Linked DNA regions of Homo sapiens. The protein of the gene in region 1 interacts with the protein of each later gene in a biochemical or structural test. Each region holds a gene or a part of one and is shown on either strand. Other genes may lie near its edges. The genes, in order: PAK5 and DNPEP.

Region 1 (15,908 bases):
CAGTATATGCAGCAGGGACAAGCTCACATATACCTTCAAATTAATTCAGAACCAAGAACCACCATCTTTAATAAAATTATTTTCTCTTGAATTCCGTGAAATTTGAGTTATCTGAAAGAGGTATAAAGATTCTTTACAGGTCGACTATATCAAAAATTACTTGAATCTAACCGCTAGTCACTAACAGAAAGATCCTATTTGACTGGAACACGTGACAAATACTTCCTAATCCAGTGTCTTTGAAATTAGCATGGCCAGCTGGAGAATCGTTGGTGCATTTCTTCTTCTACTTCTTTCCTATAGGAAAAAAGCTTGGCATGGAATAAAAAACCCTTCAGTTCTAGAGTAACCTCAAATTCAAATCCTGGCTGTATCAGTTATTAAATGTGTGGTCTTAAGAAGGATACCTTTTAAAATTTTGAGATAGAGTCTTGCTCTGTTGCCCAGGCTGGAGTGTAACGGCGCAATCAGAGCTCACTGCAGCCTTGAACTTCTGGGCTCAAGTGATCCTCCTGTCTTAGCCTCTCGAGTAGCTAGGACTACAGGGACATGCCACCACACTCAGCTAATTTTTAAATTTTTTTAATAGAGACAGGGTCTCGCTAAGTTGCCCAGGCCGGTCTCGAACTCCTGTGCTCACGTGATCCTCCTGCCTTGGTCTCCCAAAGTATTGAGATTACAGGCATAAGCCACCATGCCTGGCCAATAATATTTTTCCTGTTTGAATTGTAGCTTCATCACCTGGCAGACAGGTACATCAGCATCTGCCTCATAGAAATATGTGATGGTTACATGATTAACATATGAAGAGCTTGATGGTGCTTGGCACTTTCCCTTCCCTTCTATAACCCTCTGTTTCCTGGAAATTAGAAGGATCTGACGTAACAAGATGTTAAGTTAATGCTAACACTTCAGTATGTATAAGAAATACCTGAGTATTTGGGTACAGCATGGATTCTCATTTAGTTGGTCTGGGGTAGTACCTGAGATTCTGCATTTCTAACAAGCTCCCAGGTCCTCAGACAGCACTTGGAGTTGCAAGGGGTTAGATGTTTTATCAACCGATCAATAAATCATTCAGTAAAGCAGTTATTCAATATCTATTAAAGGAAGCTCTCTGAATTCTGAGTTTAAGATTTCGAATACCAAGTATTCATGGTGTTCCTTGACACACAATTTTGTTTTGCCTCTGGAGTTACTGGGTCTTTAAAAGGGAAATCAGTTGACAATCCTGGATGAGAAAATTAGAAAAGAAAATGGATTTTAGGGACAGACTGTCTTGAGTGGTTTCCATGGATACAAAATAAGAATGGAAAGGAACCTTGACAAAGGTAGAGCTGGAGACCTGAGTGGCTGTATGAAGCTCTGGAAGGCAACAAAAAGGTTTCTCCCCTGAATATATTTTTATTTTTTGCTTTATATGTGAAAAGCAAAAAATGTATATCACATTTGCCTTATGCTTAGATCTTTCCAGTATATTTGTTTCTACCAATTAAGATGATCTTATGTGTTTTTTTGTTGGGCATGTCTTATTGCTACAACATCAAGAGTCTGCCAGCTGAATTGTTGGTGATAAATGTCTTCACTCACAAAGCTTTATTTTGAGATAGCCTACTCCAGACCGAGAACTGTAGAGCCACGTAACATCTCATTTCAGTGGAGAAAAAACAGCATGTTTTATACTTCACAGGGTTTCCCAGTACTTTCTTGTTACCTTGTTTTCCACCAATTATGTACCTGGATCCACTTTTGATTCAGGTACCATTTCAATAACATCAGCTAACACTCAATACCTCTTCCTCATGACAATCCTTCCTTAACTTTTTGGCATTTTATTTACCATCAAAACCAAAGTTAAAGTTTCCCAAATGTAACATGCTATTTTGTATGTCTATTCCACAGAACCTTGCTTCTCCAAGTATGGTCCATGAACCAGCAGCATTGCCATTGCCTGAAAGTTTGCCGTAAATGCAGAATCTTACACCCTCTCTATTGAGTCAGGATATGCATTTTGATAAGATCCACAGTGATTTATGTGGACACTGAAATTGAAGAGGCACTGTCCTAGCACATATTCTTTCCTCTGCCTTCAATGCCCTTTTCCTCCTACTTGCCTTCTTAGTGAACTCCTATTCGCTCTCAAAATCCATCTCAGATGTCACCTTATATTAAATAGAAATATTTATTGACTCTTTCTGAGAGAGACATTTAGGTATTCTTCTATGCTACATATATATATCTTCTTAATTCTGCACAGGTATTATAATGTATTTCTCATCAGTGATGTCCCTGAGGGGATATATCTGAGCCACATTCATTTGTATCTTCTGCATCTCTACCACTTACAAAACAGCCTGGCACATAAAAGGTGCTCAATAAATACTTAATGAAATGGCTGGAACTGGCACATCAGGGAGGCAAATAGCTGAAGCAATAGGCTGGTAATTAACCATCGTTACTTGCAAGCATATTTTAAAACAGAATTGCAGAATTTCTCTGTGCCACCCAGATTCATTATTTTGATACAAAACTTCAAGTGATCCTCTCCCTGTCCCTTCCTTCCCCTGGTATCCTTGGTGTCTTAGCATGCAGCAATGGTAGAGTAACTCAGGAGAATGAAATTCAGCTTTAGAAATCTATATAGGCGACAGGACATTCTATTATTTGTCACTGAAGCTTCATTCTTAGCAGGTTGCTTATTTTAAATCAATGGGTATTAATGTCCTTCTGAGGGCAGGGAGAACATTCACCAAATGAATGAACTATACATGCCTGAGAGCATAATGGGCCCTCTGGGGAATGTAGGGGAAAGGGTAGTCATATTCCCTGACTCCAAAGTGCCTGCAATTTATGAAGAGTTCATAGTCACTGCGGCTTTATCCTGGAGAAGAATAAGAAGCACCTCGAATTCTCTGGATAATAAAGAAGCCTACCTGGTGTGAGTCACAATGTCTGTCAAGGCACCACCTTCTAGAAACTCCATGACCACCCAGAGCTCATCGCCGACAAGGTAGCTGCTGTACATGTCAACCACATTGTCATGGTGGTAATCCCGCATGATCACGACCTGGGGAAACGGGAAATATACTTTTGACTTGTGAAGATGAAGTTGCTTTTTGTTCTCTTGTGGCCACAACTACAATTGTAAGTAAACTGATTGAGAGGTACTGATTGTGGGGAAGTTTATTCAGAAAATCTATTACAGACAAAAAGCATCAAGGGTAGCTAGTAGAAATAAAAGGAATCAAGGTAGCAAATTTGAGAGAAAATGGCAGGTCACTCTGACATTGGAGAGACACAGAGAGAAAATGAAAACAAGTAGAACCAAAGCAAGATTTGCATTCACAAGAGGGAGTTTGGTTGACCATCTTTGGGGATATGATCAGATATCTCTAAGGGTCTCCTTTAGAATGCACTGTTCACAGTCCTCTGCTGGTTATCCTAGCAAAGGGTCACCAACTCGTAGTAATTGAGGGAATGAGTCCCACAAGTGAATGAAGTAAACTATCTATTATTAGAACTGGAGCCACACAAGACCAACTTAACTTCTCCTTGGAAGTAGGTATGGGTTGAACTTCAGAGATATTTGGGCTGAATTGAAAGAATATATATTGAAGATAAAAATAAGTATGGCATAGAAATTAAAAAGGCTAAGGAGCCTGCTTGCTGGAGAGAGCTTCCAGAAATTGCTGCCCTGTGGCTGTTTCCACTCGAGTTTTCAGAGCTAGTGTTAAATAATAAACTACAGAATTATTTATCTACATCATATTGCTCTGTGTGTTCTGGCATTGTGGTTTGGAAAATAAATTCCAGAAACCAGGAATGGTGGACTGGAAAGATGCTGAAGCCCAGTCACCTGGAACTCTCTGTGAGATTTGGAGCGTGTGTAAGAAATAAGCACCCGTGGGAGCTGGAGATGTGTGGAGGCCACTGGGGGCTTCATATGAGCCTCCATGATAAACAGAGTTCAAAATTGCAGCTGAGTGCATTTGTACAGTGCCTGTTTATGGACCAAACACCTTCTTACTTCTCAGAGAATGGGAGTCCTTACAATAGAAAGACAAAGAGGTCAAGCAGCCGTAGATTGTTCTGGGAGTTAGAAGATGTGGATTGTACATGCTTTCCTGGAGACTAACATCTAACACTGATACCCTGACTTGATATTTTAGGACTTAGATCTCTCATCCACAAAAACTTATCTTTCCCCTCAATGCTCTCATAAAATTACTAAAAGAATATTACTCCAAAATACTTTATGTGTTTTCTAACATAATTACTCATGTTTCCCCACCTATTTTAGAGCTCTTAAGTGATAAGTTTAAAAGGTAAATGAGAAAGTGGAAGGTAAACATTAAAGTACAACAAATATACAGAGAAGGGTTAATTCCTTAACATATCAATAGCTCCTACACATCAATAAAACAAATGCTAGCACCCTAATTGAAAACTGTGTACAGAACATATGATTTAGTGAAGAAATAAAAATGGCCTATAACCACATAAAATTCAATTTAGCTACACTAGTAATAAAAGTGCTAATGAAAACAGTAAGGTTTATTCATATCTAGCAGATGAACAGAGATAACATGACAGTCTCAATGACGCTAGTGAAGGTGAAACAATACTATTGGTGAGGGTCTAGATTGGTACAAACTTTCTAGAAATTAACACTGTATATCATTTATCTAAAAAAAGTACATATCATTTGATCTGTTCATCCTACTTCTAGGAATCTAATAAATTATCAGATATGAAGCCAAAGACTTATGTGTAACAACACTCACTGCAAAATAATAAAAGTGACAAATTGGAAACAGTATAAATCAGAAACTGGTTTTAAATATGATACATGTATACGATAAAAGATTATTAAGCCATTAAAATTGTGTTTTGACATGTAGCTAATAGAATACGTTAATATATTTTATTTTACATTAATAAAAATAAGTAATGTATGCTGATATATTTTATTTAATATTAATTTTATTAGTATTAATGTTAACATTAGGTGAAATTTAGAAAGTCACAGAACCACATACATCTAAAGTTACCTCAAATTTATTAAATCAGTGACTGGTTTAATAAATTTGATACATGTATATGATAGAAGATTATAAGGCCATTAAAATGGTCATTAAATCTACTTTACATTAATAAATATAAGTAATACAGGTCAATATATTTTATGATATTAATTTTATTAGTATTCATGTTAATATTAATTGAAATTTAGAGAGTTACCAAACTACATATATAATTATCTCAAACAAAAGAAATTTGTAAACAGAAAAATATAGAAAGGAAACACTGAAATATTAATGTAGGCTATTCCTTGACTGGGATATCTGTGGGACATTTTCTTTACTTTCCATGTATTCTACAGGAAGAATTCATTATTTTTATAGTTAGGAAAAATATTTTAAAGTTCCTAAAGGGTGATAGTCCATTGGTAAACTGACCCTGGTCTACTGTTTTAAAAATTGTTTATGGAGGGTATATTATGATATCATAGTAGTGTAAAATATATACATACTCATGTAGATACAGTGTAGCATAAGAGTTAGAATCTGCTAGACAGAGATTCAGATCCTAGCTCTACAGTCAACCTGCTTGACCCTGAGCCGGATCTCTTAACCTGAGTCCAGGTTTCCTTGTAAAAATGGTGATAACATCTTTCTATCTCACAGAGTTGTTGTGAGGATCAAGCTAGATTAATGCTTAGTACAGTGGCTGATACACATGAAGTACTTTATAGATGTAACAGCCATATATGTGCATAGAAAAAAGACTAGAAGGAAATATTACAGGGGACGCTATTTTTGTCTTTATATTTTCAGTGCTTTTCTAATGTCCTAAAATGTACATGTGTATAACTTTTGAAATGGGAAATAAATGTTACAAAGGAGAGAAAGGATGACCCAAACACACTCTTTACCTCATTGAAAAGCAGTTCTCGTCTCTGTTGCTTCCGGAGGTCCATTTTCTTCACTGCAACTTGTTTCCCTGTGTGTTTCTCGGTGGCGATGCATACGATGCCGGTTGAGCCTTCCCCGATTTTGATAAAGTTGGCCAAGTATTCCCTGGGGTCTCCTGGGCTGACCACCAGCTGCAGGGCCGCCCGAAACTGTTCATGGGACACCCTGGAGGGCTGCTGGTCGGAGGAGGAGCCCCAGCTGGGCGGCGGGTAGGTGCTGGATGAGAGGCTGAGGGAGCTCAGGTAGGAAGCCGTGGAGATGTACTGCGAACTGCTCTGCAGGGAGGGGTGATGGTACAAGGTGGCTTTGTGGTACCCAGACGGGTACTGGTGACTGCTTGAGGAATAGCCCGATTTGCTTTGACTTTGAGGTAGTTTGGCAGGGCCCCTGGGGTAGGTGTCAGACCCTGACAGTGGAGGGCTGAGGACCATCTGTGCTCGATCGTAATCCACCTGGGAAGACAGACATGGATAGAGAATATTCACATGCTGGATCTGAATGCCACAGCCGAGTGGTGAGTGAGCTGACTGACAGCTGGCAGAATGAGGATCACCAGTGGGAGATGAGAGGATCTGGCTGGGGCACCAACAGGACCGGCCACACCTAGGGAAGGGCCTTCTGTGGTGCACGTGCACCACAGCAGGAGGTTACTTCACGTGTGTCATATCTAAGGTGTACTTGCTTGTTAAGCCCTATTTTCTTGTTCAGTAATGAAAAACCCCATCCCTCATTAAAGGACATTAGTTTTCAGCTAGCATTTTTGGGAGACATTTCAGGGGTAGGAGGCCTTTTCCCATGCTTCTGAATTCACATACTAGAGGGTGGTATGGACATATATGTATAACACAGGTATAACACAGCAGATGTAGGTACAGGGGAAAATACGTCTCCCTGTGCTAAGTGGTGTGAACCACAGGGTGAACATGTGCAATGTTCTCACCAAATAAGTACAAATATAATTGAGAGTGATCAGACTTTGCAGGGGTATGTGTGAAATGAAAATGATGCTAGACCCGAAAGAGATCCCAGCAAAGAACATCCACTCTGACTTGGAAGAGTGGGATGAGGGGATTTATTGGAGGAGAATGGGGAAGCCAGTGAGGGGATTACTGGTATATGATACAATATGTAGGTCCAGCAGTCACTTCCTGGAAAGAATCAGGAAGGAGCTCTGGCCACTCCTGGAATTGCTGAGGCCAGGATGGTAAAGATACCACATCTTGTCATGTGGTATGCTCCTAGCCCAGGGCAGAAAGTGCTAATCCATCAATGCACTCTGTTTTGGAAGATCTCGATGACAACACAGTGCTGGATACATAGAAGGTACTCAGAAAAGATCTGTTGATTGGACTTGAGGCTCTTTCTTAATGCAGTGCCCCAGAAAGTCTCTATCACTCTACTGGGTGTAAATGGAATGGCATTAACTTATCCCACTCCCCTACCATCCACCCCAAGGACCTAGATCTATTCTAATATAGTAGCTACAAGCTACACGTGCCTATTTAAAATAAACAAAAATAGATTAAAAATTAAAAATTCAGTTTCTCAATCACACTAGTCACATTTTAAGAACTCAGTAGTTACCACATCACACAGTACACATATAAAACATTTTCCTCATTGCAGAAAGGGCTATTGGATGGCACTATTCTAGATGAATTGATTGTTCCCATGCAGCACATTCATTCATTTATTTCAAAAATTAATATTTGAGCAACTATGATGTGCTATGCACTGTTTTAGGTGTGAGGGGGAGGGTCCACCAACAGTCAAAATGAATGATATCTCTGCCCTCCTGGGGTTTATGCTCCAGAGAAGGAAATAGATAATAATAAAGAAAACCAGTAAATATACAGTGTGTGTTTCAGTAGTAATGAATAATATTAAGAAAAATAAAGCAGAGTGAGGGGGTTGAAAGTAATGAGATGCCATCTTGGATAGGGTAGTCACAGAAGGACTCTCTGAGGGGGTTCCGTTGGAGCAGAAGCCTGGCTGAGTGAGGGAAAAAGCAAGATCCCTTTCCTAGGAGGGGTGGTTTGGGCAGTGGGAGTGGCACATGCAGGATTCTGAGGCAGATCCAGGCTTAGTTTGTGAGGAAGAGCAGACGCTCAGCTATAGTGGAGTGTGTCCACTAAGGAAGATGGGCCGAGAAGCTGCCGGGGGACAGATCATGAAGACCTTGGCAAAGACGTTGGCTTTTGCTCCGAGTGAGGTGGGAAGCACTGGGGGTTGCTAAGCAGACAGGAATGACACAGTCTGACTCTCTGGCTGCTGGAGGAGAGACTTTGGTGGCAAGAGTGGAAACAGGGATGCCAGCAGCTTATCACAGTTAATGTGGGCTGAGATTAGGGTGGTTATTGTAGATGGGGTGAGAAATGGTGAAATCTAGGGCAGGATTTGAAGATGGAGCTGACAGGATTTGCTGATGGATTGGGTGAGATCTTGAAAGACAGGAATCAAAGATGGCTATCAGGATTTTGGCCTAAGCAACAGGCCATTTAATGAGATGAGGAATCCAGGGGCAGGAACAGGGCTTGTGGGGTGTGATAATCAGCTTCCAAATTGCTCTCAATGACCTGTGCCTCCTGACATTCATATTCCTATGTAGTCCCCTTCTACACTGTATTGGGATCAATCTGTGTGATCAAAGAAAAAGGCAGAGATGATGGCAAGTTCCTTTGCTTTCTTACATCATTTATTTTGGCTTTCACCAGCTGCCATGTCATGAGGACACTCAAGAATCCTTTGGAAGGGTTGGGTGCAGTGGCTCATGCCTGTAATGCCAGAGCTTTGGGAGGCTAAAGCTGAAGGATCACTTGAGCCCAGGAGCTCAAGGCTGCAGTGAGCTATGATTGCACCACTGCACTCCAGCCTGGATGACAGAGTGAAACCTTGTCTCAGAAATAATAAAAATAATAATAATAATAAAATAGAGAGGTCCATGCAGCAAGAAACTGAGGACTCCTGCTAAGAGCTAGCTAGAAATTGAGGCCTTCTGGCAAACAGCCATGTGAGCCATTCTGGAGGTGGATCCTCCAGGTCCAGTTGATCCTTCAGATGACTGTGTTCCTGTTTGAAACCTTGACTGCAACCTCATGAGAGATTCCAAGACAGAACCAATCAATCAGCTAAGCCCTCTCAATTTGTGACCTACAGAAACTGTGAAATAGTAAATGTTTGTTATTTAAAGTTTAGGGGAAATTAGTTGAACAGCACTATTTTTTGCTTCATGAGGCAGTTTGTTTTAAGCCATGAAGTTTTGGGATAATTTGTTATGCAGCAATATTGATAGCTAATACATGGTGGAAAATTAAGAGTTCTTTTAGCCATGTAAAGTTTGGGAGAGTGATTAGACATCCATGTGGAGGTGTCACTTAGGAGACTTAGGCATGCCCCAAGTCCAGGGAAGAGTTAAAGCTAAAGACATGAATCTGAGAGTCATCGGTGCTTAGTTCATATTAAAAGCCATGATACTGAATGTGTAAGAGATGGTCTGAGGACCCCAACGTCTAGATACCAGAAAGAGCAGAGGGATCTTGCAAAAGGGAGCAGAGAAGGAGTGACAAGTGCTGTAGAAAGGAAACTAAGGAAGCAAGGTGTCCTGGAGCCAAGGGAGGAAAGTATTTCAAGAAGGAAGGGCTAATGAATCCTGTCAAATGCCACTGAGAAGTGGGATGGGGCATGTTGCTCATTGGATCTGGTGACATGGTAGAGGCAAGCAGGTGTTTCAAGCTCCTGCCCCACCACGATGCATAAGAAGGTAGTCATTCTATCACATCATGGAGCAATAACTGCACACAGTGGGCTCTTTAAAATTGCTACCATAGCACCATTCTCAGTCCCCCAACACTGCCCATTGGTTCTACAATGACAGTGCCTGGCCTGCTGAACATTCAGCAATGCAGCCCTTCCAGCTTCAAAAACACTACACTTTACTAGGTGAATTCACCACTCAGACAGCCTTGGCATCAACCAGCAGGAACCAGGGTAGCTGCTAAGCTGCCCTCCTGCCCTGGTTGCAGAGAGAACACATGCTTTTGACGGGCATAGGAATGAATTCTGACTGATAATTTTAGTCAAGTCAACCTCTCTGAGTCTTAGTTTCCTTCTGACTCTGATAATTTTAGTCAAATCAGCCTCTGTGAGTCTGTTTCCTTATCCGTAAAATGGAACAATAATAATACTTACTTCCTTTGGTCACTGAACTCTAAAGGATCAAATACATATCAAAGTATTCAAACAATGACTGGCCAGTAAGTTCTACTTGGTGTTATTATTATATAAAATGCTTAGCACAGTAATGAGAATGCAAAATAAAATAAATAGTAACTGCAATATTATCAAACTAGCTAGCATTTATTGAAGACATACAATGCCCCTGTGGTATATATATTCCTATATATTAATACTCAAAGCAATAAGACAAGATGTAGTTAACATTAATATATTGAACAATGTATAGTTAAAATATTCAAAACCAAGCTGATTCTTTTCAAAGCCTCTGTATTTGTGCTACACAAGGAAAACGTGTGTGTGTGAGTGTGTGTGTATGATGGAATGGGGAGAGAGAAGTGTCAGTGTAAGTTAAACTACGATGGAATGGGGAGAGAGAAGTGTCAGTGTAAGTTAAACAACTGGATTCTTCCTTCAATAAGCTCCAGATTAGTCAAGTCTAGGCTAGTCAGCAAGGCCAGGGTGTGAAGGGAAATAGTGTTTTGGCTTTTATTTCTGAAAGTGTGTCCTGGGAGCCATCACTTGCCATTATCACCCTGTGTCTTCCTTGGAGGACTGGCTCCTGTACTTTCAACGAAATTGAATTCATTCCCCACAAGCATGTATAACTGATCTCTGAAGATATATTAAAAATGGGAAAGCTGCATCCTGCAGGAATCACAAACACCGCTTTGCACTAATTTAGGCCACTTTTCTTCCTTATCACCTGTCAGCAGCATTATCAGAATCCACCCTTAACAGCTGGCATATGACATAAAGAAGAAGCCTGCCTGCACCAAGGGGACAATTTCCAGGCAAAGATGGAATGCAGAGCTCTTTGCTGAAAGCTAACCATCTTCAAAATAGGCCATGAGACAAAAAGGTGCTGTTGTCTTTCACGGCTGCTGGTAAGAGGTACAGACTCTTAAGCAATGGTTGAGGAACAACTAGTATCACAAGAGACAATGTTTTGAATGAAACTCAAGGCATACTCATCAGAGAATGAACTGTTCACTTCAAGTGAGGGGACATGTAGTCTTCCCTCAGAGGACAAATAGCTGACTCTGTGAAGGAGAAATGCATGGGTGACCCCATTTGGGGCCACCAAGGTGCTGAACCATTGCCTTCTGTTGGATCTTAACCCACATGCGGGGTTCCATGATGGTGCGTATCACCAGCCCACACACTTTCAACAGGTCTTGTTCTTTTTATTCTGGGAATCAAGCAGGGGGCAACTGAATCCCATTTTGTGGTTGATAAAATAGAGGCACAAGGAGACGAAACTGCCCCCAAGCAATGCAGGGCAAATAGCTCCATACTTCCAAGGGGACGACATAACCTAGTTCTTCTGCCGGGGTCAGTCCTTCACTCCCAGTGGGAGGGCGCCCAGCACACTGGCCCACAGGCCGGCTCCCTTGCCTGCCTTGGCATTTCCAACATTCATTGATTTATAAGAATAATGATGTTTGATACTTATTGAGTGCTTTCTACATGCCAGGGACTGTTCTAAGCACACTGTGTATATTCTTGCACGTAAACCTCAAGCTGGACAATTAAATAAGCTCTGTAATTCCTCCATTTTATAGATAAGAAGACTGAGGCACAGTGGGTTTAAGTAGGTCATGCAAAGATCCCAAAGCTAAAAGAAGGGAGAAATGGGATTCAAATCCAGACAGAGTCGCTTCAGTACTTGGGTCCTTGAAAAATTCACAGAGATAGGCATGAATGATGGGGGGGGGGGATGTGGTCTTAACAGGGGCGGGCAGAGTGGGCAATGATGATAACCACAGAGATAAAGCCTGGTCAGGGTGTTTCACTGGGGGCCCAGATGTTTGGGCAGCCTGGGGCAAAATGCAAGAATTGGACCAGAACATGATGGATGATAATGTCTAGGAGAGGGGGTGAAAGACAAATTAAGGGTTTTTTTTTTTTTTTTGGCTTGTTTGTTTTGAGCAGTTTTGGCTTAGAGAAATGAGCTAAAAAAAAGAGTAGTCATCACAGCAAAACGAGTTGATTATCTATGTACATCATTCATCATTTTCCTTTTTGTTTTGGTCAAAGCAGAACTCTGCATTGTTACAACATCACTCAGGCTTTCTTCTGTAAGTTCTTTCAAGGAAGAAAGTGCAAACTTTCTTCTGCGATGAGACCTCCTCACATAGCTCTTGGACTTTCATAGTCATGTAAGTGTTCCATTCTAAGTTGTCTTTCTCATGATAGCCTATATTTGGAAGGCAGAAAACATAAATGATGAATTTGTCCATTCCTACTGTTTTACACACACATGTTCATGCATGTGAGAAAGATGTGCAAAGCAGTCCAGCTTAAACTGTGCAATCTTTTCTATGACCTGATTTACAAATACATTCTAGAAAAAAAATGAGTAGGCTTGAAGTTCATAAAAGCAGACCTATCTTTGGTATTGTGAAAGGGATTTGGGATCTGATTATTTAGTGAAAACACAATGCAGTGGAATGGGACTAGTGACAGGAATGATATTTAATAAGCAAATCCAGCATATCTCTCATCACCCATGATCCAAACCATTTCCAAAAGATTTATGTACATAGTTTACCCTTGCAGACCTTACAGCAAGGGCACGGAGTGCAGAGCAAGGGTGGGAAACTGCAATGTAAGAGAAAAAACAACAAAGGCATTCTTCCCATCCCTCCAAAGAGAACAGTGCTGTGATTTTGTGAACGAGTAACTCCTTACAAAGGAGACCATGGTCTGCAAAGTTTTCAGGGGGATTTCCATATGGCATGATGTCATGAGAGAAGACCAGGTCAATTGTCTTGCAAATTATCACCCAGGCTGCTAAACTGCTTAGCTGCAGGGTTACCAGGTCATTAATTGTCATTGAAAATTGGATACATTTTAAGAAGGAATTCTCTCTACAGGAATCTTTAGAAATATTGACAAAATGAACAAGCAGTCATGATTGTGATTTCCTCTTTTTTTTTTTTGAAATGGCTAATAACATACACTTGTTTTTTAGCTTCCTGACACTTTTTTGTATACCATATAAATTAATTCTTTAAAAAATGTGCTTTGTCATGTCTCTATTCAAACATGATCAAAAAAGAAAAAGAGCAAAAAAGAATATATTATATAAGGGAATAAATAATCCCCAGTTAACAACTCAGCCGGACTACCTTTCTACAATGAGCTCAACATCTCTAAAGATAGGGTCAGACACAGGCTTGTGATGTATCAAAATTATAAATAATTATAGCTATGAATTCACTTAATCAATCAATTTCACCAGAGCTACGCTGGGGTGGACGGGGCATAAAACTCCACACAGCTATCAATTGCTCCGATTACAGCTGGTTGTCAGCCAGAATTCCCCTGATCCATGTTAGTTAAATGCACATTAATCTGAATTTGGCAGTGTAATCAAGGACCTAACTGAACTGTGAAATTGAATTCTGCAGTAGAACATAATTTGACCATTTTATGCCAAGTCTTGGGGGGAAGAAAGCTTGGTTAGGGGAGGGTGAGAGAAAGAAGAGAAGGAAAAAACAGTACTGCAGGAGCATCTATTTGGCACTGTGGCCTTCTGTTCTGAGGGCAGGGGGGCCGTGGCTGGAGCGTGCTCGACTGGGGTGTGTGGACACAGCCACAGTGTGGGTCTGTACCCACAGAATGAGGACTCGGAATGTTCCGTGAAGGATGGCGAGTTACAGGGAGTGGGCGGCAGCTGGTTCCAGTGCCTGAATGTGATGCTCCAATACACCTTTTCAGAGCACAATAAAACAAAGACTGCTCATCTCGAAAATGAAAACGCCAGGCTGGGTGCTGCTTACTCTCCATAAATCAAATGCAAGATAAAAGTGAATCACAGTACCTCTATTATCTGAGCATGGAAAGGACATCTTAAATTGTCCTCACTTGACTCAAAGGAAAATTTAACAGGACCAGGCTTGGCTTTGGGAAGGGAAAACGACTGCTTGTAAGAATTCTGGAGAGAATCATTAACTTGCATTCTCTGTAGGGACAGGATAGAGACTGGCAATTAGGGGAATGGGACTCATTGAACCCTATAACTCGTCTGTCTCTCTGGTTGTGCCCTGCAAATGCACACTGAGAGTTGGACAAGTGGCTCATGACCCTACAAACTAGCAAAGCCTAGCTATATGAAGCAATGAATAAATCTGAGATGTGCAGGGTCAGGCATACGGGTATTCCAGGCTCTTCCTCCACCTCTGAATTGGCATATCCAATTAACCCCCCACAGTTGCTGCTTCAAACTCAAAGAATGTGTCTTCTATTCAAGAGCAGTGAGACAGAGCAGATTGGTCTGACCTGCGATCCGTCATCGCCTGCAGTGATGTGGAGGGACTCTTCGTCTTTGGGGACTGGTTTGCAGCCTCAGAATATTGTTCAAATATGTCAGGGCCTCTGAGAGAGCTAGGAACGGACAATGCCAGGTTAAATTCATTTTGTTTTTAATTTGGTAATGGGAAAACCCATTCATAATGACCAAAATACAATTTATTTTGAATCACAAGAGCATTCATGGGAAGAAGTGTCCATTCATATGCAAAGGACACCTAAAGTCTCCATCAGAAGGGACAGACGTTAGAGATAGTGCACTCAGTCAGTCCTTGGATGTTTTATGAGCCTTAATGAAGACCCTGTAGGTAAAGAAAACAAATCTAAATATATCCATTGTTATATTAAGTGATCAAGTGCTTCTCTCTTTCCCCCTCAGATTTTTAGTGCAGCCCATCAGTTTTCACTAGCACTGTCATTCCATAACCCATTAAACCCTGAATGGATCTCTGAACCGAGTTCTGCAGGGATCCTCAGTAGAAAAGAAGTTGCTGTTCTGTTGTTGGAGCCATGGTTGAATCTGGGCATGACAAGTACCACAAAGAACAGTGAATCAGTAAATTATTGATGCGGGAAGACTGGGCCCACTGGTTCAAGTGCTTTTTCCTTCCAGGGAAAGCAAAGTGATAGCTAAGCAGTGAAAACACATTGAACTGTTGACCCCAGAAGGAAGTGCCGGGAAATCACACCATCCTTTTCTTCCCATCCTTTTTGTTTTGTTTTGTTTTTTTAGACAGGGTCTCACTCTGTTGCCTAGGCTGGAGTGTAGTAGTGTAATTATAACTCACTGCAACCTTGAACTCCTGGGCTCAAAGGATTGTCTTGGCCTCCCCAGTAGCTAGGGCTACAGTTGTGTGCCACCATGCCCAGTTCAAAGTAGGTACTGAAACACTTTAGAGATGATGAAACTGATGCACAGAGAAGATCATACAGCTACTAAGCGCTTGAATCCAGGGAATCTGATTATAGAACTTGCATTTTTCTGTAATGGGTGAGAAAATCTGGATTATCTTTTAAAAAATCAAACAAGACTACCACTTAAGGTCAAATAAATGCATATGAGCACCTTAGGGATTTCTGCACCTAACACTTCCTTTACAGCCCATAGTTCCAGCTTTTACCCACGGTTTACACTCTGGGTGACATTAAGGAACTTCTCAAGGATTCCATCCTACATGATGGAAGAACAGGAAGAATAAACAGCATTCCATGGGCACAGCAAATCCACCTGTCAGTCACCACCCATTCTTCACCAGCAAGGTGAGGCTACCTCTAGGATTTGTGTCTGGGCCTGGAGACTTCATGTCCACCTTTCTGCCCCTGGATTTTCTTCTACGGAAATGAGAATATTCTGGAACACATAGACTTTGGAGTCAGTGGGAC
Region 2 (15,878 bases), on another chromosome or scaffold:
TGTATGGCAGATGCACCTGACAGCAATAACTGAAGCACACCCTGAGAATGACCCTGAATGGCAGATATACTTGATGTGTGTTTGGAGTTCTGAGCTAAGAAATCCTGGAGTGGGCAACCTAGAGATCCTCATCTATGAGGAACCTCTGAGCCCCCTTCCCATCCTGTGGAACAAGGGCCATACAGGGGATCAAGGCGCTTTGTTTTGGGTTAAATGAAGGTTGCCAGGTAGAGGTTGTTAGGGAGCAGGTGTTGAGTGAAAATGCGTGCTTTCTGCAGGTGACAGTGGTTCTACTGTCCAGCTCGCCACCACTGGACCATCTTGTATGTAAGTTCTCCTCAATAGACCCCACGTCGGCCGGGCCCAGTGGCTCACGCCTGTGATCCCAGCACTTCGGGAGGCTGAGGAGGGCAGATTGCTTGAGGTCAGGAGTTCGAGACCAGCCTGGCCAACATAGTGAAACCCTGTCTCTACTAAAAATACAAAATTAGCTGGGCATGGTGGTGCATGTCTGTAATCCTCAGGAGGCTGAGGCAGGAGAATCACTTGAACACAGGAGGTGGAGGTTGCAGTGAACCGAGATCGCACCACTGCACTCCAGCCTGGGCAACAGAGTGAGACTCCCTCTCAAAAAAAAAAAAACCTTGTCTTGTTTGCTGGCTCTGGGTCTCTTCTTTGGCCTCTTGAACCTGGGGCCTTCCTTATTGGAGTGGACAGGGGTTCAGCACAACACTGAGATGGGAAGAATGTGGATGGAATAGGTTTGGGGAACAAGGAGTTCAGATTAAGACATATTACACTGGAGATTCCTATTAGGCACACATATGGAGACTGTGCAAAAACAATTGGATATATGAGAATATATATAGTTCAGAAGAGATATCTGGGCTAGGGATACATAAATTTGACAATTGTCAGGGTATGGATACTATTTAAAGTCATGAGATTGGACATTAGCAAGGGAGTGAGGGTAGAGAGATTTCTAAGCACTGAGCCCTGAGGCCTTCCATTTAAAGATGGGAGATGAGGCCAGGCACCGTGGCTCATGCCTGTAATCCCAGCAGTTTGGGAGCCCCAGGTAAGAGTATCGCTTGAGGTCAAAGTTGGAGGCCAGCCTGGCCAACAAAGTGAGACCTCATCTCTATTTTAAAAACATGAATATAATAAAATAATAACAACATTAAAGATGGGAGATGAGGAGGAGCCAGAAGAGACCCAAAGGAGTGGTGGTGAGGGTAGTAAGTGTCTGGAAGGCCAAGTGAAGAGAGTGTTCCCAGGAGAGCAAACGGCTATGTCAAATAGGACCCATGGGTCAACGACAATGGGGACTGAAAATCGACCATTGGGTTCAGCATTGTGGAGGTTGCTTTTGACCTTGACAAGAAAAGTTGCGGTGGAATGACAGCGGTAAAACCTCATTCTAGAGGATTTACAAGAGAATGGGAGGAGAGGAATCGGGAAAACATAAGACTAGATAGTTCTTTTTAAAAGAGATTTACATAAAGAGGAGAAGGAAAATGAGGCCACTGCTGGAGGGAGACTGGGGGTTAAGGGAGGATTATTTTTTCTTGGGAGAAATTATAGCACATGTATATGCTAATCAGCTTGACCCGCCAGAACTGTGGAGATTGATAATGCAGGAGAAAGGGAAGAAGAGTTGATATGGTGCCCTTACGTAAGCAAGAGGGGTGGAATCTTGTGCACAAGTGGAGAGGGTGGCCTTGGATAGGAGCACAGATGGTTCACCCACAGAAATGAGGACAGCAGAATATGGAGCTCAGATCCTGGTAGGAGCCTAGGCGTGGCAGCTTAAAACTTGCGGAAATTCTCTTTTGAAGGCTTCTATTTTCACAGTAAAATGGGAACCATGGTCCTCGGCTGAGAGTGGGGATGGAGGAAGACACTGGATGAAACTCTCCTCCAGGAAAGCAAAGAAGCAAATGGCCCAGGAGATGCAATAGGACCTCTGGGCAGTACAAAGAACACACTTAGGTTAGTGGTTGAGTTTAAAGCAAGCTTGTCCAGCTGGGTGTGGTGGCTCACACCTGTAATCCCAGCACTTTGGGAGGCCAAGGCAGATGGATCACTTGAGGTCAGGAGGTCGAGACCAGCCTGGCCAACATGGTGAAACCCTGTCTCTACTAAAAATACAGAAATTAGCCAGGCATGGTGGCTCATGCTTGTAATCACAGCTACTTGAGAGGCTGAGGCAGAAGAATCGCTTGAACCCAGGAGGCAGAGGTTGTGGTGAACTGAGATCATGCCACTGCACTCCAGCCTGGGCAACAGAGCAAGACTCTGTCTCAAAAAAACTAAAAAAAAAAGTAAGCTTGTCCAACCCACCACCTATGGACCACATGCAGCCCAGGACAGCTTTGAATGCAGCCCAACACATATTTGTAAACTTTCTTAAAACATTATGAGATTTTTTTGAAAGGTTTTTAGCTCATCAGTTATTGTTAGGGTTCGTGTATTTTATTTGTGGCCCAAGACTATTCTACTTCTTCCAATGTGGCCCAGGGAAGCCAAAAGACCGGACACCACTGGTTTAAAGTGAGACCAGGCAGCGCGGCTTGGATGTTTCTCCAGCCACACAGGTTGGAGCAGGGGAGGAGCTGGTTGCAGTCAGGGTTGGGGTTTTGCCAGGCAAGTCCGCAAATCTAGAGCAGGAACTTGAAGGTGTGTGCGAGGGAGTGAGCACAACAGTGGAATGTATGGCTCATCCTAGGTAGGAGAGTCATGAAGACAGGAGTGAGGAATAGGGAAAGGTAGGATCAATAGTTTGTAGTTCTAGGCTGGACGCGGTGGTTCACACGTGTAATCCCAGCACTTTGGGAGGCCAAGGTGGGTGGATCACCTGAGGTCAGGAGTTCAAGACCAGCCTGGCCAACATGGTGAAACCCTGTCTCTACTAAAAATACAAAAAATGAGCCAGGCATGGTGATGCGTGCTTGTAATCCCAGCTACTCAGGAGGCTGAGGCAGGAGAATCTCTGGAACCCAGGAAATGAAGGTTGCAGTAAGCCAAAATAGCGCCACTGCACTCCAGCCTGGACAACAGAGTGAGACTCCATCTCAAAAAAAAAAATTTAACTGGGTGTGGTAGAGGGCACCTATAATCCCAGCTACATGGGAGGCTGAGGCAGGAGAATCACTTGAACCCAGGAGGCGGAGATTGCAGTGAGCTGAGATGGTTGCCACTGCCCTCTAGCTTGGGCAACAGAGCGAGACTCCGTCTCAATAAAAAAAAAAAAAAAAGACATATGTATCTTATAAACTCACACTGAAGTGTATGTAACTGACTTCTATGTTCACGCAAAAGTATTTGCACTTTAATATGTGTTAAACCAAAAAGATGAATGAATAATGGTAGCATTGTAAACATCAGCCGAGATCTTCCAGGGAAGATTTTCTCAGAAGGCCAAGGGCAAGAACGATTCTCAGAAACTTTTTCTTTCTTGATCCCTAGTCATCCCTTGACTTTGCCACCTGAACTCCAAATCCATCACCATTCCCTTACCCAGAGGTGACCATTATCCTTCCAAACCTGTTTCTATCCATTTACATATGTATTTATATAACATCTAGAAATATAAATTTAGCTCATTGTGTGAGTTTTATCTAAAGGCCCTCACCTTACATTCTAGAAATTGCTTTTTTTTTTCACTCAACAGTATATTTGGAATTCTTTTCTGTAACAATTCCTAAAGACTGACCTTTTTTTTTTTTTTATGAACTGCTACACAGCACTTTAAAATACTGTGTCTCAAGCATTCAAATCATCTAGGAATCTTGTTAACATGCAGATGCTGATTCTATAACTCTAGGGTAAGCCCTGAGGTTCTGCATTTCTAAAAAGCTCCCAGATGTTATTGACATTGCTGGTCAACAGATCACACATTTAGTAGCAAAGATGTACAGTACGGGTGGAATAGTGTGCTGGGGCCAACTTGGACAAGCTCATGAGAACTGATTGTCAAATTTCCAGGAATTTGGTGAGCTTGTTGTTAAACACAGCAATCATTAAAAAAAACTAAATTATATACACTTACAATTAAATAAATTATATTACAGATAATGAAAACCAAAAATCCATCACCTTTCCAAACATTTTACTGCCTTCTTAAATCTATGCTGTTGATGTTATTTCTATCCATTGTGTCTGCATGGTGGAAATCTACATAATGGCATGCTTCCGCACAGCTCTTCCCAACTCCCTTCAGTGACATCATCTCGACAGCTTGAAATCGGCCACGGGGAACATTTACACCACAGAAATTTGGGTATAAAGGTCTGTGCAAACATACCCCCAAAGTTCAGGGAAGCTGAAAAGCCGACGAAAGAGGCTGACATATACAGTCTCTCAGAAAGAAACATTTCATAGGGACTTATGAATAGAGGCCATAGTTTCAGAGATGAAATGGTGGATTACCCTGCAAACCCAGGGCTTACATACCATAGGGAAACAATGTGTCAAACAATTGAAGTTGACCCCTCAGGCAAAGTCATGAATGCTATGTGAATCTGTCTAAGCGCAGGATTTATGGTAATAGTAGGTAAAGTAGAAAACTTAGAGTCATTCCTGGAACAGGTTGTTGAAAAGTCAACATGGCAGATTAGCTTCCCAGATGGAGTTGCTTTAGCCTCCAGAAAATGCTTGCATTACCCCAAGCCTTCTCCAACACTTGATATTACCCATCTTTTCCATTTTTGTTAATCTGCTCAATAAAAAGAAAAAGTATCTCATTTTTATTATTTATTAATTTTTTTTTTGAGTTGGAGTCTCGCACTTGTTGCCTGGGCTGGAGTGCAATGGCACGATCTCGGCTCACTGCAACCTCTGCCTCCCGGGTTCAAGCAGTTCTCCTGCCTCAGTCTCCTGAGTAGCTGGGATTACAAGTGCACACCACCATGTCCAGCTAATTTTTTGTATTTTTAGCCAGGCTAGTCTCAAACTCCTGACCTCGTGATCCACCCGCCTTTGCCTCCCAAAGTGCTGGGATTACAGGCATGAGCCACCACGCCCAACTGTTATCTCATTTTTAACTTGCATTTTCCTGTTTAAAGTGAGATTAGGTGTCTCATATGTTCATGACTAGAAATTTAACAATATTTCTTGCTCTTGTAAATATAGCCCTTTTACTTTTTTCTTTTTTACCCAAACCAAAAATGGTCAATAAGAACCTTTTTACTTTTATATTTTCTAGGTGATTATTGTACAAGAAAGTCAGTGTTTTTTAAATTAGGCTACCCTTCCTACCAGTTCTAATAATAGCTTGATCGTTTATTTTCTTGGGGATTCTAGATAATCATATAATCTATAAATAATGACCAATTTTACTTTTGCACATATAGAATTGTTAATTTTGTTTTGTGGTACTGGCTCTGACTACAGCTCCACATTGTCTAGCAGCAGTAATAGCTCATCAATGTCTCACTTCTGATTTGAATAGGAACACTTCTGTATTTCCCTCCCAAAATGCTGGGATGACAGGCGTGAGCCACCACTCCCGGCTCACTTTCTAAGTTATGCATTTTGGTGATGTTTGAATCTCTTACTCAAGCATGTACTCTTTTCTGTGATCAGAAAGAACATTAAAGGTGGTTCCTTATTCAGGTTGTCTCCTTCCCTTATACATTGTAGCCTTGTTTCGGCCCTTTCACTGTCCTCCTTGAATGTGTCCCCTCCCCAGGAGGTAGAGGACAAGAATGCTCTCTCCATGTCCTGCTCAGCATTGAGCTTTATACATAATTTTATTTATTTATTTATTGAGACAGAATCTCACTCTGTCGCCCAGGCTGGAGTGCAGTGGCACGATCTCAGCTCACTGCAACCTCCACCTCCCGGGTTCAAGCGATTCTCTTGCCTCAGCCTCCCAAGTAGCTGCTGGGATTACAGGCACGTGCCACTACACCCGGCTAATTTTTGTATTTTTTGTAGAGACGGGGTTTCACCATGTTGGTCAGACTGGTCACGAACTCCTGACCTCAAGTGATCTACCCGCCTCGGCCTCCCAAAGTGCTGGGATTACAGGCGTGAGCCACTGCGCCAGGCCCATAATGGTATTTCAACAAACGGTTAGGGAATGCCATGAATTTAAGCCAGCACCTAGTGGGTGAATTCTTGAAAACTCCCCTGCCATATCTACTAGTTTGAAGTGAGGGCTGCAGGACCTTTCCAGCCTCTCCCCATCCCACCCTGTCACTCCCCACCCCAGGTATATAAACGGCAGGTTGCTCCATAAACCTGTGATCTCTGGAATTTTGTTTGAACCCCTGGTAGCTGGGCCCTGTTTTGGATCTAGAGGCCACCAAGAGTCCTGATCAGTTCCTGCAGCTAGGAAGGTGCATGGGGTTTAAACGTGCTACTCACTACTCCTGACATGGGAATACTGGAACTGCCAATAATGTGGAATTTGTTTTTCTGTTGTTTTTAACAAATGGAAAGGGCACAGATATCAGAGTCAAATCCCAGATCCACCCAAACAGCTATGTGATCTTGGGCAAGTCAACTTCTGTGTCCCTTGTGGACCTCCCGTGTAACATAACACTTACCAAAGCGCATAGAAAAAGGTCCAGAAAAGATCTGAGAGAAGGCTGTAGGGTTGTTCCAGGCCTCTGCAATCAAACTGATGGAGTTCAAACCCCACCTGTGCCGTTTATTACCTCGACGGATCACTAGTCTCCGTATCTCAGCTTTCTCTGTTCATGCATAAACTGGGGACAGTAAGAGTACATAGTTGATGGGGCAGTTGTGAAGATTAAACGAGGTAACAGGCCAATCTTTATCATAAAGCTAAAGCTCACCGTGAGCGCCCCATGGACATTAGCCTTATTGCTTTTATTGTCACAAAGGTGGCTGTGGCGAGAGACAGCACTTTGTACCGTACCCGTCGGACCCGGTGAGCTGGAGGGGCGAGCTTTTTATTGGCCTCGAGGCCCGGGGCACGGGGAGGCGGGCCGTCCGCGGCTGTCCTAGCACCTCCGCGGCAGCAGAGGGCCCTGGCGGCGGCTGCGGGTCGCGCGGCGTGGGTGACGGGGGTGCAGGGCGGGGCCTAACGAGCAGCCCCCGCAGGGGCGGAGACGAGGGCGGGCCGGAGGCGGAGGCGCGGCCTGGAGAGGGATGGGGCGGAAGCGGGGCGGGCGGTGCAGCCTAGCGAGGGGCGGGGCGGACGAGGAAGCGTGACGAGCGGCGGGGCGGGTGGAGCAGCCTGGCGAGGAGCGGGGCGGGGTGGGCGGCACGGCCTGACAAGGGGCGGGGAGCGCAAGGAGGCCTGACGAAGGGCGGGGCGGAGCAAGGGCGGGGGCAGGGCGAGTAGTGGGGTACAGCGAGGGCCGGAGCGGATGGGGGAAACCTGGTGAGGGGCGGGACAAAGCGGGGAGGGCGGTGCAGCCTGGCGAGAGGCGGGGCGGACGAGGAAGCTTGACGAGGGGCGGGGCGGGCGGTGCAGCCCTGCGAGGGGCAGGGCGGGCGGTGCTTCCTGGCGAGGGGCGGGGCGGGGCGGGCGGTGCGGCCAAGCTAGGGGCGGGGCAAGGGCGGGGCAAGGCGGGTGGTGGTGCCCAGCGAGGGGCGGAGCGGACAGGGTAAGCCCGCCGAGGGGCGGGGCTGACCGAGGTGGGCGGGGCGGATGCCGAGGGGCGGGGAGAGGTGGGCGGGGAGGCCAAACATGGGGCGGGGCGGCGCGGCCGGGGAAGCGTGATGAAGGCCTACGAGTGCGGCGCGGCCTGAAGGGGCACGCGGGGGACCTGCAAAGCTAGTGAGGGGCGGGGCAGGCGGCGCGGTGGGGGCGGGCCGAGCCCGGAGGCCAGATGAGCGGACACAGCCCCACGCGCGGGGCCATGCAGGTAAGTGGCTCCCGACGGCCCCACTTGAATTTCGATCCCAGACCGGGTCCGGCGCCCTCCGGGGCCCAAGCTTAGCGCGGTGCTGCAGTGGGGCCGCCTGACCCAAAGCGAAACCGAAAGCCCCGCGGAGGGTGACCTGACGACTTTCCCGGGACTGGAAGGGGGAGTCCTGCGAGAGACTAGGTGGGTGCGAGAGAGGAGTCAGGGTGCTCCTTGGGGTACAGGGCTTTGGCTCCGGGCTGGGTACGCGCACGTGATGCAGGCCGCCTCAGAGTATGGGGCCCGCTTGGGATCCCGGAGTTTGGGAGCAGAACAGGATTTCCTAGCTGGGCAGGGACATGGGGGCGGGACTTAGGGAGTCGGGCTAAAGTTCGGATTAAGGGGCGGGCCTGGCTCATGATCCTGGGCCGGCGGGCTGAAGCTTTCAACGGAGTTTCAGCCCTGGGTTTGGGTCTCTCGGTGGGGACGGGCGGAAGCAGAGGTCTGTGCCTTAGAGTGGTCACTTCTGGGGGTGGGGATGGGAGAATCCTCGGAACCTGGGTGAAAGGTCAGGGGTCCCAGACCTTGTAAAAGTCTGAGCATCCCCCTCCCCTAGGTGGCCATGAACGGTAAGGCCCGCAAAGAGGCGGTGCAGACTGCGGCTAAGGAACTCCTCAAGTTCGTGAACCGGAGTCCCTCTCCTTTCCATGGTAAGCGGTGGCCAGGGCAAGGGAGGAGGGTGGAGGCTGATGCGCCCTTCACCAGCTTCCATCGCTGTGAGAGGGTGCTTTTCCCACAGCTGTGGCTGAATGCCGCAACCGCCTTCTCCAGGCTGGCTTCAGTGAACTCAAGGAGACTGAGAAATGGAATATTAAGCCCGAGAGCAAGGTACTGGGGGTGGGGTGGGGGTGGAAAGGCAGGTCCCTAGGCTGGTCTCCAAGCCCTGTGTGCCAGCTGAGTAATGCAACTCACACCCCTGTCTTTCCTCCCCTTCTCCTCAGTACTTCATGACCAGGAACTCCTCCACCATCATAGCTTTTGCTGTAGGGGGCCAGTACGTTCCTGGCAATGGCTTCAGCCTCATCGGGGCCCACACGGACAGCCCCTGCCTCCGGGTAAGGAACTCGGACGGTGTTGGGGTGGGAGGAGATGTCAGAGGGAGTACAGGGCAAAAGAGAACTAGGAGGTACAAACTGGGGCCTCTATCCCCTGGAGTAAGGGAGAAGGTAAACTTGTTGGCCCCTTCCTTCACACCTTGAGCCTTTCATGTGACACTAATATTCGCTGTCTGTTACTTATGAGTAGCCAAAGTCTCATCTCCACATATCGTCATGAAGCCTTCTCTGACTTCTCCATCTTTACACTCAGGTGAAACGTCGGTCTCGCCGCAGCCAGGTGGGCTTCCAGCAAGTCGGTGTGGAGACCTATGGTGGTGGGATCTGGAGCACCTGGTTTGACCGTGACCTGACTCTGGCTGGACGCGTCATTGTCAAGGTGGGAACCGAGGTTGGGGATGGCGGAGCCTCCTCAGAAGACTGACTGCCACACTCCTCAGGGTACCCGTGGGGAAGAGGGGTGGGGGCAGTCTGGTCAGAGGACCACCCTGCTTAGTCTGAGTGAAGTAAAGACTGACCACTGGGGTAGGAGGCACCCTGGGCTGACCTGGCCTGGCTGGCTGCAGTGCCCTACCTCAGGTCGGCTGGAGCAGCAGCTGGTGCACGTGGAGCGGCCCATTCTTCGCATCCCACACCTGGCCATCCATCTGCAGCGAAATATCAACGAGAACTTTGGGCCCAACACAGAGATGCATCTGTGAGACTGGGGCAGGGCTGCGGTGGCTGGGAGGGATGGAGAATGGTACCAGGTGATTATTACCTAATGGTAGCCATTAGGTCACATTTTACTCTTGGGACCCAGTTAATTTCTAAGGGTCCTCACAGCCTTGTGATTTGGGGAGTGGGCTGGGAATTGAAGGGCAGAGGCAGTTGCCCATCAGGAGGCACCTGAACTTATGGATGCCGCACTCAGCTGTGCCCTCCTCGCAATCCCCCCACAACCCACGTCTCCCCACAGAGTCCCCATTCTTGCCACAGCCATCCAGGAGGAGCTGGAGAAGGGGACTCCTGAGCCAGGGCCTCTCAATGCTGTGGTAAGAGAGTCTCCTGATCATGGGGAGGGCGGCAGAGTCCCCTGAGAAGTGGGGAGGAGAGGAGGAATGGACTCTTCCCAGCATCTTTCTGCTCTTCAGGATGAGCGGCACCATTCGGTCCTCATGTCCCTGCTCTGTGCCCATCTGGGGCTGAGCCCCAAGGACATAGTGGAGATGGAGCTCTGCCTTGCAGACACCCAGCCTGCGGTGAGGACTGGCTGTAGGAACCTGTGGGTGAAGGGCCTCCAGGATCCTGGCCACCCCTAGCCCGTCCTGCTGAAGCACCCATCACCTCCACCAAGCCCTCAGTAACTCTCATCCCCGTTTTTCCCAGTAGACACATCCCCCACTGCTTCTAGGGCGGTGGTTCTCAAAAAGACAAGTTCCCTACCCCAGACCTGCCCACTAGGACTATCTGGGAATTGGCCCTTTTTACAGATTCCCAAAGAGTTTCTTCTACAGGTGGGCCCTGTCTGCTTTGACCCACACTGACACTGAACTGCTTAGGGAAAGAGGCCTGGATGTGGCCATCTGTTCTCTGTCTCCCGGTTGCTGATGGTCAGAGATTGCTAAATCTTTGGATGCTGTGTCCTGCTTGAACACGTACTAAGTTTCTGTTTTTTGGCTGGTTTCCTCTGTTTACTTCTTTGGCCTTTTTGATGACAATTCAGCCCTTCCTTTTCTTGACCCACAGGAAGAGGTCAAGAGCTATTGGCCTCCACCCTTTTGTTCCTCAGCACCAACCCAGCCCCCTTCTCCAATCTCTGCTTGGTCCTGCCTAGCAAGGAATCCCAGCACTTTGGGAGGCTGAGGCGGGGGGAATCACATGAGGTCAGGAGTTCGAGACTAGCCTGACCACCATGGTGAAACCCTGTCTCTAATAAAAATACAAAAATTAGCTGGGCCTGGTGGTGCATGCCTGTAATCCCAGCTACTCAGGAGGCTGAGGCACGAGAATCCTTTGAACCCGGGAGGCGGAAGTTGCAGTGAGCCGAGATCGAGCCATTGCACTTCAGACTGGGCGACAAGAGCGAACCTTCATCTCAAAAAAAAGAAAAAACAAAATAGTGCCCTAAGCCAGGGGTCAGGGAGAGGTTGCGCAAGAAACCAAGGAGACCCTTGGGAGCAAAAGAAAGGTGAGTGGGGGTGGAGGGTTGAAGGTCGGGCTGACTGTCTTACCTCTCTAGGTCTTGGGTGGTGCCTATGATGAGTTCATCTTTGCTCCTCGGCTGGACAATCTGCACAGCTGCTTCTGTGCCCTGCAGGTGAGGAGCCGGGGCGCCCCAGGCAGCACATAACCACCAGCAGAGGTGGTATGTTTGGGGTCGGGGGAGCTGCCTAAAGCCCCAGCAGGTTGTGAGAGAGGGCCATTGTCTACCCGCTCAGTCTGCTGGTGCTGGATGGACCAGGAGGGGGCCCTAAATGTTGCAGCCTCAGCATCGCCACCTTTGGTCTCTGCCCTTGCACTATCAGGGTGTTGAGGCAAGAAGAAGGAGGAGAAGTTGTTTCAGGCACCATGGTCTCTTGTCCTAGCCTTGCTCCTGCTGCTTTTCCTGAAGTTAACAACCTCTGCCTCAGGGAAAGGCTTTATCATCCACAAGGCAGTATCATCCACCTCCTTCTGCTTCCTACGCCACTCCCCAGGCTTAAGACCCCAGCCTTCTCCCTGTTTCTTGGGATCTCAGTCAGGTAGCCTCTCTTCCTAGTCACCTTGATATTCCCCACCTTCTCTCCACCCTAGTCAGTTCCCTTTCTTTCTCTCCTCTTGCCCTTGATCTCCCTCTGCCTTTTTCTGCCTTTCCTTCCCTGTAATCCTGTGGCTGGAGATAGGCTTTGGGCTGTAATTGAGACCAGAGCTGGACCTGGGACCTGCATCTACTTCTGCAGGCAACCAGCCAGTCATGTCACCTTGATGGAGTCTGTCACCTCTTTGAACCTCAGTCTTTTCCCTGAGGCCAATCAGTTTATGTGATGTGTGTAGCCTTTTGGCTTTCCAGGACTCTCAGCTCTTCCTCTCTGTCCTCCACATCTTCTACTGCCTTTTGCATGGGAAGGTAGAGAACAACACCCAAAGGATGGTGTCTCCTGTCCCAGTTGAAAAGGTTTCTACCTAGCTATTGATCTGGCCAAAAAAAAAAAGAAAGAAAGAAAAAAAGAGAAAAAAAAGGTCCTCACCACACCTTAAAGGTTTCTACCTATGTAGCTATTTATTTGGCAAGAAAAAAAAGGTCCCCACCACACCCTCTGCCAGGCAGTGCCCTAATTGATAAAAGTCATGGCCATGGAAGGCAGACAGGGGAATGTGCACACCCAAGGTGCTGGTGGATGGGGGAGCGTGCACACCCAAGGTGCTGGTGGGCTGAGTTCCAGCAGAAGCAGGTTGGAGATGATGCTCTCATTTCCTTCCCTGAACCAGGCCTTGATAGATTCCTGTGCAGGCCCTGGCTCCCTGGCCACAGAGCCTCACGTGCGCATGGTCACACTCTATGACAACGAAGAGGTACGTGGAGGGTTCTGGGGAGGGTCACCTCTGCGGAGTCTTCCACAGCCAACTTGTTGTGCCAGGCATCCACCGTGAGCCAGGGCTCTTCTGGGGGCCCCAAGACAGGGGAGATGCTGCCTGTGCCTCCTTAGCACTTGGTGTCTCCTCTGACTCAACATAGATCTGCTTATTCGAGGGTGACCGTCTCTCCTGTATCTCTCTTTGTGCCACATGGTGAGCTTCTTCCTTTAGGACAGGGACTCTACCCAGCCCATCCTCGTAGCCCCAGGGCTCAGCACAGAGTAGGTCCTCATGATGCCTGCGTGTGTGAGGCTGCAGTCTCAGCTGCATAACAGAGCTTGAACAGCTAGTGCTCTCTCATGTAACAACCCAGGTCAGAGTTAGCAGTTTAGGAGGGGTCCCTGCCGTCCTGAACACATGACTTCCATTTCAGGATTCAGGGTGGCCGTTCCAGCTCTGGCCATCATGTCTACACTGAGTTAGTAGGAAGGGAAGAGAGGGCAAAGGGGCAGTAGACACCCCCTGGCTTTAAGGGCATGATCCAGAAGTGACATTCATCACTGCTTACATTCCACAGAACTTAGCTGCAGGGGAGCCTGGAAATGTCATCTCTAGCTGGGTAGTTAAGTGCTTAGCTACAACTTGGGTGTTCTAAAAGATATCATGGACAGTTAGCAGTCTCTGTCATACACATAAAAGAAAATTGACCAGTGTGGTGGGGCACCTGTGCTGAGCCCCAGATGTGAGGGTCACGAGAGGAGGAAGGGGAGCAGTGCAGGAAACCCACCAGTACTGTTAAGAATGTGAGTTAGTTTGGTCTCAGCCCACTGTCTGGTGTTCAGTGACGACCCCAGGTTAGGGGTGTTGCTAAGAACACCCAGTGACTCAGTGGGGTTTTGGGCCAGTTGGGCAATGGGCCCCTCTCACTGGCTTCCAAGATCAGGCCCCTAAGCCCAGATTCCCAGAGTCAGGACTCTACTGTCGCCAGGTGGGGTCTGAGAGTGCACAGGGAGCACAGTCACTGCTGACAGAGCTGGTGCTGCGGCGGATCTCAGCCTCGTGCCAGCACCCGACAGCCTTCGAGGAAGCCATACCCAAGTCCTTCATGATCAGCGCAGACATGGCCCATGCTGTGCATCCCAACTACCTGTGAGTCTCTAGTGCCAGTCACACAGTCTTCACATAGCTGGAGACCCAAGCATAACCTGCCTTGAGGCTCTGCCTTGGCCCCAGCCTCTTCCTTTCTCCCTTCTTCATTCTGCCGGGAGGTTCACGGGCACTTCCTTTTCACTACTGCGAGACCAACTTGGTCAAAGTCATGCAATGCCTAACCCAGGTGTGTGGAATACACCTTTGTCTACAAACTTGTTTCCATCTATTGCTAGAGGCTGCCCGGAACCCTGTGTGTGGAATGACTCTGAAGTCCCACTGGGCTGGGCGGGAAAGAGTGGTGATCTATTAGTGATGTCTGCCATGGGAGGGTGGTGAGTGTCGACAGGCCTGCTCCTGTTTGCTATGTCTGGCCCTTATCTGTCTCTTACAGGGACAAGCATGAGGAGAACCACCGGCCTTTATTCCACAAGGTGAGACGTGCCATTTCTCCCTAGGGACTTGGAGGTCTGGCTGTTCCGAGCGCCGACTCATTCCCTTTGGGCCTGTCATTACCTCTGCCTCACCTTGACTCTCCCCAGGGCCCCGTGATCAAGGTGAACAGCAAGCAACGCTATGCTTCAAACGCGGTGTCAGAGGCCCTGATCCGAGAGGTGGCCAACAAAGTCAAGGTCCCCCTGCAGGTGAGGGTGGGCCCTGCCTGGGAAGGTGTGATGGAGGGAGCTTGGTGGGGGCACAAACAGATGGGCCCCCCATGAACAGGGAACCTGGTAGATGGCCTTGAGTGGAGGGGGGTCCCAGTAGAGTGAGAAAAGCAGGGATTTTGGATACAGCTGGATTCCATGCTGGCTCTGCTGCAGTGCTAGCTGTGTGACCTTGGACTAGTCTCCTAACCTTTCTGAGTCTCAGTTTCCACATCTGTAGAATAGGGGTGATAGTGATGCCTACTTTGCTGGATTTCTATGAAGACTGAAGGTACAGTGTGCTCCTGGCACATGGTAGGCCTGTCTTTCCCTGCAGCACCCCCACTTCCCCTGTGTCTCCTACACACCCTGGGGGCTTCCACAGGGAAAGTTCAGGGCTGGGGAGTATGGAACTCCAACTACTCATTTTCTCTCTTGCCTGAGAAATTAGACATCTAGTCCTTTCTCCTCAGTGTGTGTGTGTGTGTGTGTACATATATATGTTGTATACATGTATGTATATAACACATGACAGTATTGTGTATACACATATACACACATATATACTGTCATGCATTGCTTAACAACAGGGATACATTCTGGGAAATGGCATCATTAGGCAATTTTGTCATTGTGTGAGCATCATGGAGTATATGTACACAAACCTAGACGGACAGCCTGCTGCACACCTAGGTTGTGTGGTGTAGCCCATTGCTCCTAGGCTACAAACCTGTACGGCTTCTTACTGTGCTGAAAACTGTAGGTAACTGTAACAAAATGGTCAGTGTATCTAAACATAGAAAAGGTACAGAAGGCCAGGCGTGTTGGCTCACACCTGTAATCCCAGCATTTTGGGAGGCCAAGACAGGCAGATCACTTGAGGTCAGGAGTTCAAAACCAGCCTGGCCAACATGGTGAAACCCCATCCTACCAAAAAATACAAAAATTAGGCAGGCGGAGTGGTGCATGCCTGTAGTCCCAGCTACTTGGGAGGCCTTCCCTACTTGGGAAGGATCTCTTGAGCCCGGGAGGTGGACGTTGCAGTGAGCCGAGATCGTGCCATTGCACTCCAGCCTGGGCGACAGAGTGAGACCCTGTCTCCAAAAAAACAAAACCAAAAAAAAAAAAAAAAGAAAAGAAAAAGAAAAGTTACAGGAAGCATATGGTATAAAAGATTTAAAATGGTCCACCTGTATAGGGCACTTAGGAATGGAGCTTACGGCACTCGAAGTTGCCCTGGGTGAGTGGTGAGTTAATGTGAAGGCCTAGGACATTACTGTACACTATTGCAGACTTTATCAATGCCGGACACTTAGGCTACACTACATTTATTTTGAAAATTGTATTTCTTCAACAATAAATTAGTTTACTGTAACTTTTTAACTTTATTTATTTATTTATTTATTTATTTATTTTTGAGATGGAGTCTCACTCTGTCACCCAGGCTGGAGTGCAGTGGCACGATCTCGGCTCACTGCAACCTCTGCCTCCCAGGTTCAAGCGATTCTGCCTCAGCCTCCTGAATAGCTGGGATTACAGGCACGCACCACCATGCCTGGCTAATTTTTGTATTTTTAGTAGAGACGGGGTTTCACCATGTTGGTCAGGCT

What was found.
Region 2: the proteins of PAK5 (region 1) and DNPEP form a complex in vitro, tested with the Homo sapiens proteins (one study listed by BioGRID).

What each region holds. Positions count from the first base shown.
Region 1 is NC_000020.11:9,559,958-9,575,865, forward strand, and holds part of PAK5 (serine/threonine-protein kinase PAK 5), read right to left. Parts: intron 11,352-15,908; exon of another isoform or gene 10,922-11,351; intron 6,428-10,921; coding exon 5,936-6,427; intron 3,145-5,935; exon of another isoform or gene 3,068-3,144; coding exon 2,934-3,067; intron 1-2,933.
Region 2 is NC_000002.12:219,379,725-219,395,602, reverse strand, and holds the start of DNPEP (aspartyl aminopeptidase), read left to right. Parts: upstream 1-7,690; 5' UTR 7,691-7,808; coding exon 7,809-7,844; exon of another isoform or gene 7,845-8,027; intron 8,028-8,240; exon of another isoform or gene 8,241-8,325; intron 8,326-8,439; coding exon 8,440-8,533; intron 8,534-8,622; coding exon 8,623-8,711; intron 8,712-8,824; coding exon 8,825-8,938; intron 8,939-9,191; coding exon 9,192-9,317; intron 9,318-9,504; coding exon 9,505-9,635; intron 9,636-9,896; coding exon 9,897-9,972; intron 9,973-10,071; coding exon 10,072-10,179; intron 10,180-11,159; coding exon 11,160-11,237; intron 11,238-12,388; coding exon 12,389-12,472; intron 12,473-13,463; coding exon 13,464-13,624; intron 13,625-14,018; coding exon 14,019-14,058; intron 14,059-14,166; coding exon 14,167-14,268; intron 14,269-15,878.